Regions from separate parts of the Homo sapiens genome. Here region 2 is linked to region 1. The links come from fine-mapping of genetic effects on gene expression. A gene starts in region 1. The other region holds a variant in brackets. All regions are shown on one strand. Distances are between the middles of the regions. Region 1 holds the start of NELFCD (negative elongation factor complex member C/D). Region 2 holds the start of TUBB1 (tubulin beta 1 class VI).

Region 1 (11,373 bases):
TCCTTCCACTACCTTTAGCTTCCATTTTTTTTCTGATGAGCAGTCAAGTCATTAATCACATTTCCCTTGTTGCTTTCAAGAATAAGAAAATACACAGGCCAAAATATCACAGATTTACACTGTTCTTACTTAAAGTTTAGTAATTTTAATTAATAAATGCTTCTCCGTTTGCTGTATGCCTTTGGTCTATTATTTCCAGAGGCCTGCAATGGTTATTTTTGACAGTTTTGTCCAGTATCATTGTGGCATTTAAGGGGCAAGATTTGTTGACCTCACTCCGTTGTCATGTCAGACATGAGAAAATGGTTTGTTGGGTTTTTTTTTTTTTTCAGATGAAATGAGAGGTCACTGAGATGTATTAAGCGGAGAAGGGAAATAATCTGTTTGTGTTTTAAAAGACTGCTTTAGACACTCATATTAGTTAATTATTGCTGCACAAAAAATTACCCCAAATTGATTTACTTACAACAACGCACATTTATTATGTCATAGTTTCTGTAGGAATTTTGCAAGCAGTTTAGCTGGATGGTTCTGACTCAGGGTCTCTCATGAAGTTGCAAGTGGTATGTCAGCTGGGACTTGACTGAAAGTGGAGAATCCACCTCCAAGCCCACTTACTTAGCTGCTGTAGGAGCCCTCAGTTCCTCACTATGGGTTTCTCCATGGGCCTGTTCACAGTGTGGCATCTGGCCTCCTCCAAAGTGAGTGATCTGAGAGAGTGTGGCCAAAATGGAAGTCCCAGTGTCTTCTTATGACCTAGTCCATGAAGTCCCCCACTGTCACTGCCTTATTCATTAGAAGTGAATCACTAAGTTCAGCTCACACACAAGAGGAAAGACATTAAGCTCCGCCTCTTGAAGAGAGGAGTATAAAAAAAGTTGTGGATACATTTTGTAAACCATCACACTGCTGTTTGGAGAATGGACTGTAATAGAGAACAGAAAGATGAGTCAGATCAGTCTGTGGCTACTGCAGCCACCCAGGTGAGAGCTGGTAAGAGCCTGAACTAAGACAGTGGCATAACGATGGAGACAAGTGAATAGATTTGAAGTAGATTTTGCACGTGGATCTGATGCAGAATTTGCCTTGGGTTGAATAGGAATCATGGGGGAACAGAAGTTACAAATGATTTCCAGGTGTCTGGTATTTGTAACTAAGGACGTGGTGGCCCCATGTCCTCTCTCTCTCCCTTACTCTCTCTCTCTCTGGCCTGCCCTTTCTTTCTCCCTTTCTCTCTCTCTCTCTGGTCTGGCCTCTCTCTCTCTCCCCTTACTGTCTCTCTCTCTCCTTTTGATGTCTGCACTCCAGCCATTTTCTTTACTGTCATTTCTTATTTTCTCCACTGTACCCTATTCTCTTTGTCCTCCAGATTGAAGTCACAAGTCTCAGCTTAAACATAATTTCCCTGGAAAGGACTTCTTGACCTCTTTCTGAGGTCGCTGCATTTTTTAAAAAAAATTGTTAGAGATAGCTTCTCTTTTCTCCTTTTTTGCCATTAGCACCAGATGAATTGTGTCTCTGATTCAGCTATATCCCAGCACCTGACACCTAGTAGGCACTCAGTAAGTATTTCCTCAATGGATTAAGTGAAACCAACTTCTAATTTTCATAAAAATTCTCCACCAGAATTCTTCTTTTTCTTCTTTTTTTTTGGTGGGGGTCAGGGGACAGAGTCTTGCTCTGTCACCCAGGCTGGAGTACAGTGGTGTGATCTCACTTCACTGCAACCTCTGCCTCCCAAGTTCAAGCGATTCTCCTGCCTCAGCCTCCCAAGTAGCTGGGACTACAGGCACCCGCCACCACACCTGGCTAATTTTTGTATTTTTAGAAGAGACGGGGTTTCACCATGTTGGCCAGGCTGGTCTCAAACTCCTGACCTCAAGTGATCTGCCTGTGTTGGCCTCCCAAAGTGCTGGGATTATAGGTATGAGCCACCGCACCCGGCCCAGAATTCTTCTTAAACAGGAAAATGACTTTAGAACTTAAATGACTTTAGGAGTATTTAAGCAATGCAAGCTAATCTGGACAATCTAGACAAGGCTTTGGAAAAAACAACAGATCCACAATATCTCAGGAGGCAAGACCTATAGACCCAACTACTTTTTTTTTTTTTTTTTTTTTTGAGACAGAGTTTCGCTCTGTCACCCAGGCTGGAGTGCAGTGGCATGATCTCGGCTCACTGCAAGCTCCACCTCCCAGGTTCACACTATTCTCCTGCCTCAGCCTCCTGAGTAGCTGGGACTACAGGCGCCTGCCACCATGCCCGGCTAATTTTTTTGTATTTTTAGTAGAGACGGGGTTTCACCGTGTTAGCCAGGATGGTCTCGATCTCCTGACCTCGTGATCCACCCGCCTCGGCCTCCCAAAGTGCTGGGATTACGGGCCTGAGCCACTGCGCCCGGCTGACCCAATTACTTTTAAATCATTGTGACTTATAGGCTGAATGTAATGGTTTCATTACGGGTTGTTAATCCATTTAACAATAAATGGATTAACCAACCTGTTGGTTGAAGGAGAAGTGAGCTGAATAATCCCCAATTCCGTAGGCACAATTAGTTATACATACATTAATTGGTCCGCTTTCAATTCTGGCACTATTTTTTAAAAAATCTAAGAGGAGAGGTAGGAGGAGTTTAACAGCCATCTATTCTTTCCAACATTTTGAGAAAGCAAGTGAAAATGAACCCTGAAACAAGCCAACAGCAGGGGCACTCATTAACTTAATACACTTTAATCTTGTGAATAGAAGCTGGAGCTGGATCCTTTGAATCGGAGCTGCAGACTTCCACCTCCAACCACCTGCAGGACATCTCCGCATGGGTGTTCTGTTGGCACCTCTAACTCAGCACAACCCAATGAACTCATTATCATCCCATGGAGAAACCTGCCCTCCTCCTGGGTTCCCTGTCTCAGCCATGGGCCATCCCCAGGCACACAAGCTGGGGGTCACAGCAGCATCTTCCCTGCCCCTGTTCCTGGCCCCCATCTCCCACCCCCAAGGCTGTTGTATCCTCTGGACTTGACCCCAACTTCACAGCAGTTAGCCACAGCTCCTTCTCAGCAACCCCCTCCATTAATGCTCACGGAAGCTTCTTAATTTACATTCTCACCTTCTCACTTCCTTCTGTAAGGCCCCCTCAGCTAGGAGAAATGCCTTTGAAAATTCAGATATGTCCTTTCACCCGCTCAGAGCAAGAAAAAAAAAATCCAAACGTTTCATCTTCCTCATAATGATGCATACTTGCTGAGCACCTACCATGTGCAAGCTCTCTGCTCAGTGCTTGGCATACCTCATTACATTCAATCCTTAGAGATGGCCCTCAGTTAATACAGACCTAACTCCCTCCCAAGATCTGGCCCTCCCTGCCTTGCCCACCTCATCTAGATTTCTCCTTGGCCTGCCAGGTGCCGCTCTCAGTGGCCTTTCTGTTCCAAGTACGCATGCCTGGCCTTTGCCCTGGCAGTTCTGCTCTCTGGAAATGCTCTTGCCTGGGTCTTAGCTAGCTTGCCCCTTTCATGACATGACTCAGTTCAAATGTAAGCTGCTCAGCAGCCATCTCTGATCTCCCCAAGAAGATTCTATTATCACAGAATACTAGCACTGATCACCTTCTGTCTTTATCTTATTTGTTCCCCCCACCCCCTCCCCCCATTCAGCTCCTTCAGTAGAATGTAGGCTCTACCCGGACAAGGATCAGGTCCAACTTGTTCACCGAGCTCCAGGGAGCAGCGCAGTGCTGGGCACTTAGGGAACACTCAATAAACATTTGTTGAATAAATGAAGACATATTCCCTGATAAGTTCTCCAAAAGTAGTCACTATTATCAATCTTCTGGAGCTCTTTTCTCTAATACTCTTTCCTTACTGACATGGGCATTACCTTTCTTTTTTTTCTTTATAGACAGGGTCTCACTTTGTCACACAGGCTGAAATGCAATGGCACGACCATAGCAAACTGTAACCTCAAACTCCTGGGCTGAAGCAATCCTCCTGCCTCAGCCTCCCGAGCAGCTAGGACTACAGGCGTGCATCACCATACCTGGCTGGGGGCGGGGGAAGGGGGGGGGCGGTGTCTCGCTATGTTGCCCAGGTTGGTCTCAAACTCTTGCCTCAAGCAATCCTCCCACCTTGGCCTCCCAAAGTGCTGGGATTACAGGTGTGAGCCGCGGCGCTCAGCCACGGGCGTTACCTTTCAAAGCATCCAGATTTTATGGCGTTAATCTCCCTGTTTAAAATTTTCTGTGATTTGGACACAAAGATGGGAACAACAGACATGGGGTATTCCAAAAGGCAGAAGGTGTGGAGGGGGGTAAAGGCTGAAAAAGTTGCCGAAAGGATTAGAAGCATCACGCAATATACCAATGTAACAAACCTGCACACGCACCGAATCTAAAATTAAAACAAAACAAAAACACAACAACCAAACAAAAACCTTTCCGTGATCATCAGGAGGCTGTCATATTCTCACCCCCTACTTCACGCTGGGAATCGAGCTGCGGGCTTTACAACAGCGTCAGCTGCTCCCTTTGGCAACGACCAGAGAGGTCCTTTCTCCAGAGATTTTTGTCAGCTCTGGGCACTTTTGCTTTGTGGGCCTATCTTCCACTTTATAAAAAATTAAAAATGCTACTTTCCACTGCATTCAGTACTTTTTCTTCTCTTTTCTTTTTTCTTTTCTTTTCTTTCTTTCTTCTTTCTTTCTTTTTCTTTTTCTTTTTTTTTTTTTTTTTGACACAGTTTCACTCTGTTGCCTAGGCTGGAGTGCGGTGGTGTGATCTTGGCTCACTGCAACCTCCACCTCCTGGGTTCAAGCGGTTCTCGTGACTCAGCCTCTTGAGTAGCTGAGACTACAGGCGCCCGCCACCATGCCCAGCTAATTTTTGTGTTATTAGTAGAGAAGGGGTTTTACCATGTTGACCAGGCTGGTCTCGAACTCCTGACCTCAGGTGATCCGCCCGCCTCGGCCTCCCAAAGTGTTGGGATTACAGGCGTGAGCCACCGTGCCCTGCCCTTTTTATGTATGTATTTATTTATTTGAGATAGGGTCTCGCTCTGTCGCTCAGGCTGGAGTGCAATGGTGCGATCTTGGCTCACTGCAACCTCCGCCTCCCGGGTTCAAGCGATTCTCCTGCCTCAGTCACCCGAGTACCTGGGATTACAGGCGCATGCCACCACGCCCGGCTAATTTTTGTATTTTGAGCAGAGACGGGGTTTCACCATGTTGGCCAGACTGGCCTCGAACTCCTGACCTCAAGTGATCCGTCAGCCTCGGTCTCCCAAAGTGCTGGGATTACAGGCGTGAGCCCCCACGCCCGGTCGCGTTTAGTACTTTTTACCAAAACTAAAAGAAATTAAAACACTTTCGTGGGTCCTGGACACTTCCGGAAGGATTTGTTTCCAGCTGCCAGATGAGGAAACTGGGGCTCGCAGAGCCGGCGCCGCAGGGGAGGGGCTGTGCACGAATCCAGTGGGAAACCTCTCTCCGGAGCTAAGCCCCTGGTCCACCCGGGCATCGCTCCGGGATCGACTGGGGGCGTTCCTTCCGCCGGTCCCCTTTGTTCCCAGTGCCGAGCCCGCGGCCCTGCCCTTCCTCCAGGCCCCGCCCCTTCTTCCAGGCCCCGCCTCCCGCCCGGGCCGAGGCGCGCGGCCGCGCGTGCGCCCGCCCGCCCGTCCCCGCCTCGCGCATGCGCCGCGCTCGCTCGCGGGAGGGCATGGCGGGGGCCGTGCCGGGCGCCATCATGGACGAGGACTACTACGGGAGCGCGGCCGAGTGGGGCGACGAGGCTGACGGCGGCCAGGTGAGGCGGGGCACTGGGCGCACCCTAGAGAGAATCGTTCGTCTCCGCCGCCGGCGGGCCGGCCCCACTCCCGGAGAGGCCGCGCGGCGCGAGGCTGCGGGCGTGCGGGGGGTGTGCGCGCGCACGGCCCGCGCGGTCACCGTGTGGTTCAAGCACAGCCCGCCCCGCCCCCGCCCGCCCGGGGTCCCGCGGCGCGGCCGCCGGGGTCCCCGCCTCCTCGCCTGCAGGACCTTGGGGTGGGGGTGAGGCGCCGGAGGCTCTGGCGCGGGGCGGCCCGAGGCCCCCAGTACCCCCTCGCTCCGGCCAGGCCCGGCGCCGGCCCTGCGACCCCCGCGGCGGGCGGGACACCAACGCTAAGGTGGAGGGTTGGGTCCGGAGCTCACAGACTTTTAAACAAAAATAAAGTGGAAAAACTTCACAGCAGCATCATGAGGAAAAAGTAGAACTTAGGGCATTCCTACATGTGCTTTACTGTTTTATAAACTGTACTCTTCAGCACCTTGGGCTGATTTCATCTGTTTTTGGGCAAACTGATGGAAAGGATTTTCGGGCCTTGACCTTCCAGGGTTTGGGGTGGAAGCCCAGGAGGGATCACTGTTCCACCCTGAGGACAGGGACTGCAGAGCCAGGGCAGGTAGCTCTAGTCTGGACAGTGTGTCCCCACCTTACTCTAAAGACCCAACTGAGGCGCATGATTGAAATGTAGCTTCTCACGTCCCTCCCCTGGAGACGGCCCAACAGTTGGTCTGGACGGGAGCCTGGGAACTTGCATTTTTTTTTTTTTTTTTTTTTTTTTTTTTTTTTGTGGTGGAGTTTCGCTCTTGTTGCCCAGGCTGGAGTGTAATGGCGCCATCGCGGCTCACTGCAACGTCTGCCTCTCGGATTCAAGCGATTCTCCTGCCTCAGCCTCCCGAATAGCTGGGATTACAGGCACCCACCACCATGCCCAGCTAATTTTTAAAATTTTGAGTAGAGAGGGGGTTTCACCTTGTTGGCCAGGCTGGTCTCAAACTCTTGACCTCAGGTGATCCACCCACCTCTGCCTCCCAAAGTACTGGGATTACAGGCGTGAGCCACTGCTCGTGGCCCAGGAACTTGCATTTTTAACAACAATCAAGATTGGGGATGTCTGGTGCATTTTGAAGTGGTATTATAAGGGAATAAAGGATGAAGTGGGGCTTACGTTGATAAACATGGGTGGTGGTGTGATGGCGGCTTCGGAGCCATGGTCTAAAATGCCAAGGCGGGCGATGTGTTTCTGGAACTGAAAGAAGCCCTGTGATGTTAGCTGCCTGGTGGAAGCAGTGGCAGGAGGTCAGTAGGGAGCAGGTTCTGAAGATCCTTGGAGAGCTGCTGAATGGTATGGCTTGTTCAGGAGTTTGGGGCAGGGAGTGACACGAGTAGATTTGCATGTTGGATCATTTCACAGTGTTGGAGGCTTAGGGTGGAGTGGATAGAGTCAGACTTAGCTAACTGAGAGCTTGGGCCATGTGTGTCATGCGTTATCCCCTTCCACACACAGGATTTTGAGTTGGGTGTTACCCTACTTATCTGGTAAGTGTAGAAAATGAGACGAAAAGACTTACTGACCTGCCCAAGGTCATGAAACTAATAAAGGAAGGAGAGGGGACCCAAACCCACATCCTTTGCCTCCGTTGCCACTTCGTCAAATTGCTGACTACCAAAGTGGTCCAGATGAGAAGGTGTGAATTAGCTTAGTGGTAGGTTGGTGTTTGGGGCATCTAGTATATCACCTTGAGCCTTTTTTTCTTTTTTTTTTTTTTTGAGACAGAGTCTCGCTTAGCTGCTCAGGCTGGAGTGCAGTGGCTTGATCTCAGCTCGCTGCAACTGCCATCTCCTGGGTTCAAGCAATTCTCCCGTCTCAGCCTCCTGAGTAGCTGGGATTACAGGCATCCGCCATCATGTCCGGCTAATTTTTGTATTTTAGTAGAGACAGTGTTTCACCACGTTGGCCAGGCTAGTCTTGAACTCCTGACCTCAGGTGATCCGCCTGCCCCGGCCTCCCAAAATGCTAGGATTACAGGCGTGAGCCACCGCACCCGGCCTTTTTTTTTTTTTTTTTTCTTTGAGACGGAGTCTCACTCTGTCACCCAGGCTGGAGTGCAGTGGTGCCATCTTGGCTCACTGCAACCTCCACCTCCTGGGTTCAAGTGATTCTCCAAGTAGCTGGAATTACAGGCCGGTGCCACCACACCCGGCTAATTTTTGTATTTTTAGTAGAGATGTGGTTTCACCATGTTGGCCAGGCTGGTCTCGAACTCCTGGCCTCAAGTAATCTGCCCGCCTCCGCCTCTCAAAGTGCTGAGATTACAGGTGTGAGCTACCGTGCCCGGCCTCACCTTGAGGCTTTGAGTCATAAAGTGTTAGAACTGGGGCATATAAGGGCCATCTAATCAGTACCTTCACTTTATAGACCAAGCACGTGAGTTATTTGCCCAAGTTTGTGCAGTCAGACCTAGACCCCACTGATGGGAGATTGGGGAGTCTCATGTTTGGGGAATTTTAATCATGATCCTAATTTGGCCCACTGACACCAGTGGGCTCTCATGGATGAGGGGGGTGGACCAGACGTTCATTTCATGTTTATTCTGTGACTCTGCTTGGAAGAGGTACAGAAAGTTAGGAAAGGTGTTAGGAGGGTGGCAAGAACTGGATTTTAAAAGATAGTTGGTGACCCAAATTCTGTTCGCCTGATGCCATGTTACATAGTGGGAGGTAGGAAGATGTGTAAGGAGGCCACCGTGATGTTCAGTCTGGATGGTGGAAACTAAGAGCTGCAGACATGCAAATAGATGAGTCCTGCTACAGATTGCAAATGGGGAGTGGTGAGAGGTCAGAACGGACAGGGGAAGTGGGAAGGGCACGCTCTTGCTAGAGCTGGGGCGTTTTTTCCTGAAGGAGATGGGAATCTTTAAGCAGGAGAGAGACGTCAGTTTTGTGGCTTACAAAGATCACTGTGGCCACGGTGTGAAAGATGATTGAAAGGAAGGAATAAGACTGAGACTTCAGGGGAATGTTGCTACTGCAAGCATACAAAAAATAAGGAAGAGCAGAGGCAAATGTGGAAAGAAGGACCACCTTGGATAGACAGATGGGAGATGGAACTGATGAGTCTTTGTGACAGGATGTGGGGGTGGGGTGAGGGAGAGAAGCTGAGGATGATTTTCAGGTTTGGGGGGTAACAAGTAGATATATGAAGGATACCTTTACGGAAATATGGGTTGTAGGAAGAAGATCTGTTTCTAGGGAAGAGATGTCAGTTTTGGACCTAAAGAGTTTGGATACTTGTGAGACATCTGACTGGAAATGAGAATGGAATGTTGGATACCTGAGTCTGGAGCTTAAGAGAGGAAAGACGGAGAGAGAGATCCAGGCTAATTCTAGATTGGTGAGCAGGTAGATAGCATGACCCAAGAGGTGGTGGAAGAGGCAGGTAGGTGAGTGCCCAGGGTGGAAGCCCAAGAGAACAGACAACGTGGGAATGAAGCTCGGGGTGAAGTCCGGCCTCTGTCATGCCCTTAGGGGCTCAGCGTTCCCCATGCAAATCTGGTCTGAGAGAAGACTCCACAGCTTTTACTGGGAAGTCATCGGGTTCTGTCTGCTCCCAAAGCACTGCTTTTAGGATCTTAGTCCAGATCAGGAGTGAGCAAACTTTTCTGAAAAAGGCTAGATAGCAAATATTTTAGGTTGTGCCTGTCTCTGTCTTAACTACTTACCTCTGCCCTTACAGGGGGAAAGCAATCATAGACAGTCCTTAAAAGAATGGGTGTGCTGTGTTCCGTAAAAGTTTATTTGCAAAAATAGGAGAGGGCTGGATTCGGCTCTGGGTCATAGTTTGCTGACCCCTGGCCCAGCTCTTGCCCCATTATGTTAGAGTAGGTTGCATGGAGGTCTGTCTCTCCTATTAGTTTGTGAACTTCTTTGATGGAAAAAGCCTTGTCTTGTCTTACATTTTCTTAGGTTCCTTGGTTGATGAGCATAGTGCAGACTGAATGTTCAAAAAGCATCTGCTTGTTAGTTAGGGTGGCAGTGTTAAAGTTGGACAGGGTTTGGGATCACAGTCCATCCTCACATGGTCATTAGCAGGTGAAGAAGCCTGCTTTGCCCTTAGATGGAGTGACAGGCCTGAAGTTGCTTCCACATAGAATTGGGACTGGAGTCCAGCCAGAAGTGTGGATGCAAGGCGAGTTAGTGGTCTTTACTTTCTAATGGTAAGTGATGGCTCACGCTTTCAAGAATCAGGTTGTTACTCTTCAGTGGCATGTATGAAATAAGAATAGTGAAAACAATAATAATAATAGTTTACTATTTATTGCACTGTTACGAAATGTCAGGGATTATGCTGGGTTCTTCCAAAAATTAGCTCATGGAATCCTCACAACAGCCAAATGGGAATAGGCGTTATTATTATCTTCACTTAACAGAGGAGGAAATGGACACTCAGAGAGGTTGGGTAACTTGTGTGAGCATGGAACGCGGTTTGCCAGGGAGGAGTTGTACACACCCACTCAGTGTGATCCTGGATCCCATTTTCCTAGCCACTCACTATCTGTCCAGCCCATTTCATGAAATTGTCATGAAAGTCAAATGAAATAATGTGTGTAGAATACTTTCAAAATGGGCAGCATTATACGATTTAAGGTGAGATTAGGGTATTTGTATTAATGAAAAAAATATCCTGGCTCTTCGCATTTACCAACAGCAGGAGGATGATTCTGGAGAAGGAGAGGATGATGCGGAGGTTCAGCAAGAATGCCTGCATAAATTTTCCACCCGGGATTATATCATGGAACCCTCCATCTTCAACACTCTGAAGAGGTATGTGAGAAAGGTGTCTGTATTGGGAGGAGGCTGGGGGTAATTTAGAGAAAGTTTTGTAATACACCCAGAAGGTGCTATGTAAAGCAAGAGTAACGCGAACTGAACTAAAGGCTTCAAGGGGGGGTCCCCTCTGCCACTTTTTTTTTTTTTTTAAATTTTTTTAAGACAGAGTCTTGCTCTGTTGCAGTGGCACAATCACCGCTCACTGCAGCTTCAGCCTCCTGGAATCAAGCAGTTCTCCCACCTCAGCCTTGCAAGGTGGCCACCACAGGCGTCTGCCATCATGCCTGGCTATTTTTGTTTTTGTTTTTTGGGAGAGACAGGGCTCCTTACGTTGCCCTGGCTGCTCTTGAACTCCTAGGCTCAAGTGATTCTCCCACCTCTGCCTCCCAAAGTGCTGGGATTACAGGTGTGCACCACTGCACCCAGCCCCCTCCGCTGCTTTAAAAATTTTGAAACCTGATTCTCTTCCTCCTTCCTTACCTTCCTGTTGTCCATCATTCCATTCATTCGGGTGTAATTGCTGTTGTTACTTTCCCTAGGTATTTTCAGGCAGGAGGGTCTCCAGAGAATGTTATCCAGCTCTTATCTGAAAACTACACCGCTGTGGCCCAGACTGTGAACCTGCTGGCCGAGTGGCTCATTCAGACAGGTGCTTTGTGGGTGTCCCCTGTCCTGGCTAGTTACCCCCACTTTTTTAAAAATAGACTTTTGGGTCCTTATAACACTGATA
Region 2 (11,373 bases), 34 kb after region 1:
ATCCATTTGAAATCATCATTTACTTTTTCTTTTCTTTTTTTTTTTTTGGAGACAGAGTCTCGCTCTGTCACCTGGGCTGGAGTGCAATGGAGCAATATCGGCTCACTGCAACCTCCACCTCCTGGGTTCACGCAATTCTCCTGCCTCAGCCTCCTGAGTAGCTGGGATTACAGGCACACACCATCACACCTGGCTAAGTTTTTGTATTTTTAGTAGAGATAGGGTTTCACTACGTTGGCCAGACTGGTCTCGAGCTTCTGACCCCGTGATCCTGCCGCCTCGGCCTCCCAAAGTGCTGGGATTACAGGTGTGAGCCACCGCGCCTGGTCTGAAATCATCATTTTCAAGCCAAGAAGGAAGGAAGGGGGCCTGATGAGACTTATCTCTCCAGCCTCTTCTCATGGGTCCAACACAGCAAACCACGCAGAGACAGGGCTCCTCATCTCTGAACCTGGCCCTAGTCGAGTGGATGCATGTCTGGCTGCCAGACTGCTCCGAGAAGCTGGCGGGCTGTGTCATTTTGGGGGTTACTAAAATCGTGCAGCAGAGGATCCTAAATAGGATTTTTGGTTTTCTTGGTTTTGGGGTTTTTGTTGGTTGTTTTTGTTTTTCCCTTAACTCGATGCAAGATCTTAAACATGTTCCTTGTGGGGGCGGGGTTGGGGATGGCCACAAACCCACCCAAACTCAAATTCCAGTGCTGCTATTAGTGAAGGATGTTTAGCTGGAGGAGTTCTCTGAAGGGCACACAGATAAAACCAGGAGGTGTCTGGGACTGGAAAAAGAGGAGGGAGCACATTGGGAACCTGATAGACAGGCCACCCCAGCCATTTCTTGCTGGGGACTGCTTGCTGGGGGTTGAGTTTAGCCCCAGAGCTGTGTCTCTCTCTTCAAAGCAGACTCACCTGCAGAGCAGCTTGGGGACTCTTGGAAACCGGAAAGGTGTTTCCTCCTGACTTGGCTGCAGGTGCCTGCAAGGTGGTTTTGTGGATACTGACTCTTCTTCTCATCTGGGCCGGGATCCGAAGAGGCTTGGGGCAGGGCACTTGGACCTTCCTACCTCTGAGGCCCTACTTGCCTAAGCATTGCTTCTAGCAGCTCTTTATAAGCAGCTGTGTGCCACCGCCTTCCAGCTTGGGGCAGAATTGAGTAGGTATTTAGAGCAAGGCGTCTCCCCTGAAACCACTTTGCCTGGAAAGCTTGGCACCTATCCTGGGTTTTCCTTCCTGGAGGTAATGGAGTCATTCCTGCTCCCAGTGGTGCTTGAGGGCAGAGGGCTGAGCCAATGACATTCTAGAGGACTGTGCAGCCGCATTTGATCCTTTGCACAATGCTGTGAGGTGGGGGTGGGGGTTGGGAGGCAGATGCTATTACTCCATTCTACTGGCGAAAAGACTGAGCCTCTGGAGATGTCAGGTGACCTGTGCTCAGCACGAGGCTCCTGGGTGGCAGGTTCCAATCCAGTCCCTTTTTTTTTTTTTTTTTTTAACCCCATGAATTCTCCTGGAAAACACATGATCCAAGGCCACAGACACAAAAGCCTATTCATTTCTAAAAATAAGGCTGATTTTTCTCCTCATTCTGATAAAGATCAGCACTCAGGCCACGGCTGGCCCACCTTCCCAACCTGGAGGAGGAGAACACAGATGAGTTTTCATCGACTGTGGAATGGCCTCGAAATCCTTTTTCTTCTTCCTTTGTGCCATATTGTCTGGCTTCCACCCCGGCAAGCTGCAGACATTTCCTATTATTCCACATTCCTGAGTTTAGCCACATCCTGGATACCGGCATTTGTTTGGGTGGATGCCGACAATGCTCGCTAGGCTAGGCTGGTTTTGCAGGGCACGACGGTTCCCTCACCAGCTACAGGAGTTCCTCTTGATCCACTTGGTCAACGGGTCAGAGGCACTCGCTAACACCCAGATATCTCTGCAGTGCAGGCCTTCAGATAGGGCGGGCCAGGTTTGCAATCCACCATGCCACTGTCCCCAAGCACCACCATGCATCACATCCTGGCCTGGTTGTGTTATGGGAAAGGGGATCCCAACCCAGATCCCAAGAGAGGGTTCTTGGACCTCACGCAAGAAGGAATTCGGGGAAAGTCCATAAAGTGAAAGCAAGTTTATTAAGAAAGCAAAGGAATAAAAGAATAGCTCCTCCACAGGCAGAGCGGCAGCACGGGGTGCTCAGCTATTTATAGTTACTGTTACTTCTTCATTATACACTGAACAAGGAGTGGATCATTCATGAGTTTTTTGGAAAGGGGTGGGCAATTCCAGGAACTGAGGGTTCCCCCGCTTTGTAGACCATACAGGGTAACTTCCTGATGCTGCTGTGGCATCTGTAAACTGTCATGGTGCTGGTAGGAGTGTCTCTTAGCATGCTAATGCATTATAATTATCATATAATCAGCACTGAGGACAACCAGAGGTCACTTTCATCGCCATCTTGGGTTTGGTGGGTTTTGGCTGCCTTCTTTATCACATCCTTTTATCAGCAAGGTTTTTTGTTTGTTTTTGTTTTTTGAGACAGAGTTTCGCTCTTGTTACCCAGGCTGGAGGGCAATGGCACAATCTTGGCTCACTGCAACCTCTGCCTCTTGGGGTCAAGTGATTCTCCTGCCTTAGCCTCCCGAGTAGCTGGGATTACAGGTGCCTGCCACCATGCGTGGCTACTTTTTTGGCTTTTTTTAGTAGAGACGGGGTTTCACCATGTTGGCCAGGCTGGTCTTGAACTCCTGACCTCAGGCGATCCACCCGCCTCAGCCTCCCAAAGTGCTAGTATTACAGGCCTGAGCCACCGTGCCTGGCCTATTGGCAAGGTCTTGGTGACCTGTACCTTGTGCCGACCTCCTATCTCATCCTGTGATGTAGAATGTCTAACCTCCAAGGAATGCAGCCCAGGAGGTCTCAGCCTTATTTTACCCAGTCTGTATTCAAGATGGAGTCGCTCTGGTTCAAACGCCTCTGACAGTTGCACAGTGACTGGTGGTGCACACTTGCTTGGGAGTGGATGTGGCTCCTTGGGCTGACATTGATGAAGGCAGCCTCATCAGTATCACCTTTGGGACACACCCTGTGCAGCACAGCATGTAACAGACACAGCCCACCCATGAACTCACCAGGAAGTCTTTCAAAGGGGCACTCAATGACTACCCGATTGAATTTGTTTGCCCTCTAAAGTTAGGCTGTCAGCAAATATTTGTTGAGCACCTAGTACGTGCAGGCTACTGTTTTCTTCCCCGGGGATTCGGCAGTGAACAAAGTCCCTGTCTGCAAGGACTTATGTTTTCTGCATAAGGGAACATGTGGAAAAGTAAAATGCTCAGGAGGTAGGAAGTGCTTGCAAACAGTTAAAACGGGGAACAGGAGAGACGGAGGGTCTCTGGAGAAGTTTGGTCTGGGACCATTCTTTTAGGTATCCAGTGAGTTGGGATTGAATAATGACAGTCATGGAAGGTGCTGGAAGGAGACTCAGCAGAAGGAAGAGTGTCTGCAGAGGCCTGAGAATGTGAGTGCACTGGGTAAGTGTGTGATGCACTGGGGAAAGCCCTTGGGGAGGCTGCGGACAGGTGGGCTCAGCCTCCAAGCTGCAGGGACCATGCGGGCACTCAGGCCAGCTTCACACGGCCAGCCCACCTCTCCCCTTCCCTCCCCTTTCTGCCATCTGACAGAGGCTCTGCTGGCCTCCTTCATCCCCCACCTAATTTCCCTGCCCAGCGGGTTTCCCATCCCTGTCTCATGGGGCGTGTGCATTTTGGAAGATCTGAAGGCACACATCGGCCTTCCTTTTGTAAGAGGTTTGGGTTTTCTCCCGGTTGCCACTGGCTTTCCAGGAGGGCAGTGGCTGAGAGCTGATTTCTGTTTGTAAGATCCCTCTGGTGACTGTGGGAAGGATGCTGTGAGTGGAGTCAGCTGTGGGACAGGAAGGGCCCTGGAGGGGAGAGCCACAGGTGATGGATGAGGAATGCTGTTTGAGAGAAGGGGAGAGTAGATGCATCAGGACATCCACCTGGGAGCAGGACTTGCAGGATGCAGTTACAGAGTGAGGAGCAGGGGACGTGAGCACCCCGGGCTCCTGGAGCCTGCCTCTTGGCCCCTTGAATTGTACCCCTGGATGTAGGTGTCTGAGGACCTGCAATCCGTTTCTGGTTCTGCCACATTATCCTGAGACTTGAACATGTCAATTCCTCTCTGAGCCTTAGTTTCTTCTTGAAGGTGGTGGTGTCATGCAGGCTAAACGAGGGAGCATGTGGGAGACGGTGGCGGCGGCAGAGAAACTGGTAAAGACCGGCAGAGCGGGAGGCTAGTGCTGCTTTCACCCTCTAAGTCCCTGGAGGGCAGGGCCCATATTTTCTACTTTTCTGAGGTCCCTCAAAACTAATATATCCGAGATTTCTTGGACAAACACTGGGCTTGAAGAAGTACATATTTTTGTTCAATTTCAGCTCCAGGTGCTGACCCATTTTATGCTTATCTGTTCATGCCACAGAACATCGCTTATCACTAGCTGCAACTTCGGGAGACAGGAAAGATGCAAGTGAGAAGGTTCATGTGTCCATCTCTTAGATCTTCGCGCAGTTCAGGGGAAGTGGTGGTGGTGGTAGGTGTGTGTGTGCGCGCGTGTGTGTGTTATCTCCTGTAAATCAGAGTTGCCACAGCCTGCATGCTGCTCACCAGTGCACCTGGAGAGACAGCAAGATGTTTCCACCCTCTGGGCTTGGAGGCTGGACAGGTGTGAGGAGCAGCCAGAGTCTGCCTGGTACAGGAACCATGAGCATCTCAGCTGTGGGGGAAGAAGGTTAACACTCCTGGCTCAGCGAAAACCAGCAATGTCCTCCTAGTCTCTCTCCTCTTGTAGTTAGTTACTCATCCTCCTAGAACTTTCTTTTCCAGTAAGAGAACACACACCGAGCAGGGTACAAGAAAGTGGAGCTCAGCTCCTCTGGCGGGCTGCCTACACCCGCTGAGTCACCCATAATGGCCCCTCAGATGTCATTTTCTTGCTAAGACATTTGGAAAAATTTCCTGGTTCTAAATCACACGCAAACAGTATAATTCAACAATCTTCTCTGAGTTATTCAGGGAACTTCAACGCACTCAGAAGTGGAAGATCGGGGCGGATGAAATCAATGAATTCTCTGAGTGCTCTGTTTTTCTCTGAATTCTATTTCATTTGCCAAATGGAGGGTGGGGGCAGCTCCATCTGACCCCTGGGGGATAACTCCTGGGGGAAGTCTGGAAGCAGCCGATTCGGGGTTTCTGGGTGACACTGGTTTTTCTTATCTTCCCGGTTCTATTTCTGTAATAGACGCAAGTGTCATGCAGGAAAAGGCTTGCTGCTGCGGAGCCTTCTGTGGATGGCTGTGACAGGCCACTGGAGGAGAGGGTTTCAGGCTCAGGGCTGGGCTGGTCCTGGTTGGGAATCTCAGTGTTGTGGGCCATAGCGTCCTCACCACACTTGCTAGGAGGAAGCTCCTGCCCTCTGGGGCAATGCTTGCTGATCTCCTCACCTAAATGCAGGCACTGCTAACCTGCCTTGGTCACAGCCCTTTGTTGGGGGGGCAGAAAACAACTTTGTCACTCATCACAGTGGCCACTGTGAATCGCTTGCTGCAGCTCAGGACGGGGGCCGTCACCTTCAGCCTGGCAAAACAGACCTTGGGGTCGTGCCGGCATCTCCAGGGGCAGTGTTCGCCTATGTCCTGCACAGGGCCCGCTTCTACCAGTCCGAGGGCAAGGCAGACTGTATTCCCCACCTCACTGCTGGCACTAAGGTGGCAATCAGAGGAGAGCTGTTTCCTCTGGGGAGCAGGTACCTTCAGAAACAAGGACAAGAGAGCTGAGACGGGACGCACGGCTTTCCAGACCTGCTGCCTTTCCTGCCACTCTGTTCTGCCCAGACATTTTAAATTGAGACAGGCCCCGATGTCCACGGCCATGTCAAGTCTGCCACACAGTAGGTGCTCCGT[C/T]TGTAGGTGTGGAATGCATCTCCCCCTCCCACCCTGCGAAGCCCACTTGAAAAATACCACCGGCAGCCACACGTTAGGGGTCAGCCCTGGCAGGCCCAGTCCTCACACCGACTTGTGACGTGGGGACTTTTATTTCATTTTTCACGTGAAAAAGTTCAGGTCTAGGGCGGAGATGGGCCCCTGGGTGGCGGAGCTGCCACTCCGTCCCTCACCCTCTCACAGCCCAGCGTCCAAAGCTCAGCACTCGCCTGGCCTGAATTAACATGGCCGGCGATACAAGAATCAAAGCAAACAGGGCTTCTCTCTTTTTCCTCCTTTTTGCCAACTGCCCCATTAACAGAAAAACCTTTTAAGCGCCCACCTGGAAACCTGGCTTTTTCCCCTCCCTAAGCAAACTAAGATGGCCAAGAGGAATGTGCTGCAGTGCGGAGGGTGGGCGGAGGACCCCAGCAGCCTGGATCCTGCTCACATGGCAAACAGTGAACCCAGGCAGACCAGAAATGCCCCTTGGGCCCAGCCCCGTGGTCCCTGCAGCAAGGCGGTTTGTGGCCAACAGGGGCTCCTTTCAGGAGCTGGGCCACAGAAGGCCACGGCTGCCCACCGGTCACACCTTCCCGTAATAGCTCACTGCGGTTATTCCATCTATAGTCTGTCCCCAACATCCAGGTTTCTTGGAACAGTTTATATCTCCAGCCTAGACCACCTCTTATGGAATGGAGGAAAAAGGTGACCCCACCTGGAGAAGGACACACTCGTGAATAAATACATCACTGGCTTTAAGAACACAGCCCGCTCTGAGCATCACTGCTCAAACCTGCCCAGCTGTCAGTGTGCCCTTAACAAACATTTACTGAGGCCCTGCCATGGATCAGGCACTTTGGGGACTCAAAGATGAAACGACACAGGCAGCTCCCAGGCTGGCGGGAGATAAGGCATGTGTATAAGTAATTAGCAAACAGGACTGTGTGTGGGCACTGCAGGTTGAAGTGCTCTGGTCCCCAGGAGAGGAAGTGTCTCTGATGAGGGACCTGCCTGTGGGAAGATCATGGAGCTGTCTTTGATCTTCGGAGAAGTCTGGTAGGCAGGGGCCCCTGGGTGGGGAGGGAGGCTCGGGAGAGCTGGTGGGGACAGAGACAAGGGGAAAAGAGGCCAAGGCACGCCAGGAGAAAGGCTGGAAGTGAGGCAAGATGGGCTAATGTCTATGGAAACAGAATGGTCTATTCTTAATTTTAAAATGGTCTGTTTTAATTTCTGAAAAATATTGCTGGGGACCTATGAATAGGTCTGTTTTAATTTAAACAGATCATTAATAAAATGGTCTGTTTTAATTTCTGAAAAATACTGCTGAGGACCTGTGAATATCCTCCTCTTGAATTTGCACATTCTTCTCTTTACCTTTGGGCAGGGAGGAGGGGTGACTGGACCGGAAGCATCTGTGAGTCATGTGACATTCAGGTTTGAGCACAAAAAAGTTCCAAACTTAGAGAAATGTTACAAGGGTATTAATCTTGTGCTAACTTTGAAAAGAACCAGCAATTGTTACCACTTTGCCCCTTTGCTGAACTGCCCTCTCTCCGTTTATCACGTTATGTGGTTGTGGAACTGTTTCCCAGTAAGCTGCCAGCATCAAAACGACCTTGAAGCACAGTGCTTCATAATATGGGATCTCCTGGAAACAAGGACTTCCACTTAGAACCACCCTGCCATGATCAAAGTCAAGAAATGGAACACTGATACAATACTATTTTCCAGTGTACACAATCCTTATTTGAATTTTGACAATGATCCTCATACCATCCTCTATAGCAGCCCTCTTCCCTGGTCCTGGATCCAGCCCAGGATCATGGGGTGCACTGTCAGTACTCAAGGGCAGCCTGGGATCTACACACTAGACAGAGGTGAGAAGCAGTCCCAGTCCAGGCACTCTTAGGACACAGTGCTTTCTTCTTCCCCACCTCTGGGTTTCTCTTCTGGTTTATAGCTCAGGCCCTTTGGCTGTGTGTTTGAGCTCCTTTGGGAGTAAGCAGAAGCGATTTCCCCCAGACACTCCATCGTTAGGAACTTTCCTGATTGTGTTCCTGACCTCACATCCTGGGCCCCACCAGGCCTGTAGAAGGAACACAAGGTTTAGGAGTCAAGCCTGGGCTTGGGGCACAGGAAGCACAGGCCCCTCATGGACCAGGCTGGGCTCCAATGCTTCAACCAAGGTCACGGGTCTGGCGAGAGGCAGGGGAGGGAAGGACCTCCAGGGCTTCTCGCTCTGAGTTCAGTAGTCTTGCCTGTCCTGAGTCCCTGTCCTGAGAGATGGTGTCCTTGAGCTGCTCCAGAGCTAGGAGTGCTCTCTTCCTAAGTAAGCCAGAGTTCCAAGAGTGCAGGATCTGGCCACATCTACCTCCTTCATTCCCTTGTCTGCAGCGCCCAAGGTGAGCCCAGCCTATGACAGGTCCCCGTCCATAGCTGTTCAAAGAATGGGGGCAACCTCAGGGTGCCCGGCAGACGTTAAAGAGAGGCCTCAAGAGGTGGTTGCTCACCGGATGGTGGTTGTCCACATCCTCGGGGCTTCAGGAGTGAGGCCTTGCCCTGTACCTGCCCACCTGCACCTCGACAGCTCAACAGGCACAAGGCAGCGTCCACTGGCTCTCCCCTTCCGAGCCAGGGCTCTCACGCCTTCTCAGGGAGTCCCTTCCCCATCTTCCTTGGAAGCTTCCACCTTCTGTCCTCCAGGCGGTGGGGAACTGCCACCCTCCTGGGCAAGGATATGGAGCTGGTGTTTGGCCTGGATGCCCTTGCCTGGTTGGAGGTAATAAAGCCTAGGGCTGGCTTTCGACGATGATAGAAACTTGGTGGCAGGGGAGGTACTGAGGACCAGGAGACAGAACAGCTGCTTTCAAGCTGCTGAGTACCCAGCCTGCTGCCACTCCTGTACACCGCATGAGGGAATGCTTTTTTTTTTTTTTCTGACAGAGTCTTGTTTTGTCGCCCAGGCTGGAGTGCAGTGGCATGATCTCGGCTCACTACAACCTCCGCCTCTCAGGTTCAAGCGATTCTCCTGCCGCAGTCTCCCGAGTAGCTGAGACTACATGTGTGTGCCACCACACCTGACTAATATTTGTATTTTTAGTAAGAGATGGGGTTTCGCCATGTTGGCCAGGCTAGTCTTGAACTCCTGACTTCTGGTGATCTGCCCACCTTGGCCTCTCAAAGTGCTGGGATTACAGGAGTGAGCCACCACACCCGGCTCTAAGGGAATACAATTGGGAGTCCGTTTTGCTCTTGGAGAATTCAGGGTCTGGTAAAGGGACCCTATGGCAAACATTAAGACCCCAGACACCATGAGCTGAGATGGGACGACAGAGCAGGGGCTGGGAAGGGTGCTGGGGCACAGCCCAGCCCTGGCATGGATAGGGCAGGGGTCCAAGAGACCTGCAGGACACTGCAGAGTAACTTGCATACAGGGCGAGAGAGGGCATGTGGGGGAGGGCGGGCAGACAGTGCCTGATGCAGGCCATCCCGGGACCTGGGACCTGCGAGGCCCAGTTGTGGAGCCTCCTGCTGTGGCGGGGCACGGGGCTTCTGGGGACCAAAGTCTGGAAAAGGGGCCGGGAAGATGGACAGGGAAAGCCCTTGGAGGTGGTCTGGTTACCTGGGTGAGCTAGGAGCCACAGTCATCATACCACGGTCACTAGGGCCAGCATGGTCACCTAGAAGCCTGCAAACAGTGCCAGCCTCCAGGCCCTGTGCCCCGAGGTGGCCTTTAATCTTGCACTCACTCTCTAGGAAATGATGGGGCAGTATTCTGTGTTGAGGGAGGAAAAACACTCCCTTCCAAAAGCATGACAGGCAGAAAGCAGAGAAGGGCCAGGACTGGCTGAGGGCGGGGAGCTGGGCCTCTGGGGTGGACACACCCTTGGTCACATTGTGAGGGTAGCTTGGTTGGCCAGTCCCACCACTGCAGTGACCACAGTTGTGTTGGGCTCACACCAGTGAACCGAAGCTCTGGATTCTGAGAGTCTGAGGATTCCGTGAAGATCTCAGACTTGGGCTCAGAGCAAGGATGCGTGAAATTGTCCATATTCAGATTGGCCAGTGTGGCAACCAGATCGGAGCCAAGGTAAGTAATGTCTGGTTACTAATCCTAGCTTTACCACAGTCCATAGAGGCGGACAACCAAAAAAATACCCTAAGTTAGCAGGGAAGACAATAAGTCTAGCAGATTTAATGTACTTGCTAAATATCAGACAATGCCTTTGGGCTTTAATTCTTAAAAAAAAATTTCACATGGGAAAAGAAGGAAACAATCTTTAACTAAAGAGCTACAACACACATTAAGTGCTTAGAGTGTTAATTTAATTAATGTTAATTTTATCCATAGATACATATGTACAATACATGCCGACCATTATATTACATAATACGTTTATCATCTTTTTCTTTGCCCACTCTGTTGCCCAGGCTGGAGTAGAGTGGCAGAATCATGGCTCACTATAGCCTCAACCTCCTGGGCTCAAGCTATTCTCCTGCCTCAGCCTCCTGAGTAGCTGGGATTACAGGCATGCACCACTATGCCTGGCTAATTTTTAAATTTTTTTTTGAGAGACAGGGATCTCACTTTGTTGCTCAGGCTGGTCTTGAACTCATGGGCTCAAGTGATCCTTCTGCCTCAGGCTTCCAAAGTGGTGAGATGACAGGTGTAGGCCACCGTGCCTGGCACTTTTATCATCTTTTATTTTTTTGAGATGGAGTGTCACTCTTGTTGCCCACGCTGGAGTGCAATGGCGCAATCTTGGCTCACTGCAACCTCCACCTCCTGGGTTCAAGTGATTCTCCTGCCTCAGCCTCCCCAGTAGCTGGGATTACAGGCATGCGCCACCACGTCTGGCTAATTTTGTATTTTTAGTAGAGATGGGGTTTCACCATGTTGGTCAGGCTGGTCTCGAACTCCTGACCTCAGGTGATGTGCCCGCCTGGGCCTCCCGAAGTGCTGGGATTATAGGCGTGAGCCACTGTACCTGGCCCACTTTTATCTTAACAATGAACTTTTCATATCTAAAAACAGTAATTTGTCTCAAAACAGCTTTTTGAAGTTTTTTGAGAAACTTTCTGTACCCTGTCACTATGGTGTCTTTCCCCTCCCCTCTCATGTTTATTGTAACGCTTAAAAAAAATCAATTACTGTTTTATTAGTATGCAATTGAAAATTTAAGAAATTTAATTGAAAATAAAAGTTTTTTGTGTACAGTAACATAATTAATTAAAATACACTGTCTGGAATATAAATGAGTTTTTCTTTCCCTTGCCCCCCTGCTTAAAAATTTCCCCCAAGTACGTAACTTAATTGGCCAACCCCAAGAACACAGATGCCCGAACCCACAATCTCCAATCTTGATTTTAAGATGACCAAT

The links.
Region 2: its variant is fine-mapped to the expression of NELFCD in whole blood (TOPMed, PIP 0.94).

The regions. Positions count from the first base shown.
Region 1 is chr20:58,975,572-58,986,944 of GRCh38, forward strand. It overlaps NELFCD (negative elongation factor complex member C/D), which reads left to right and starts at 5,685. Exons shown (of 15, transcript NM_198976.4): 1 at 5,685-5,798; 2 at 10,522-10,637; 3 at 11,183-11,292. The coding sequence starts at 5,739. RefSeq lists a silencer at 5,541-6,020 and an enhancer at 5,943-6,443.
Region 2 is chr20:59,009,498-59,020,870 of GRCh38, forward strand. TUBB1 (tubulin beta 1 class VI) reads left to right here and starts at 9,932. Exons shown (of 4, transcript NM_030773.4): 1 at 9,932-10,082. The coding sequence starts at 10,026. The variant C/T (reference allele first, on the strand shown) is at 5,972.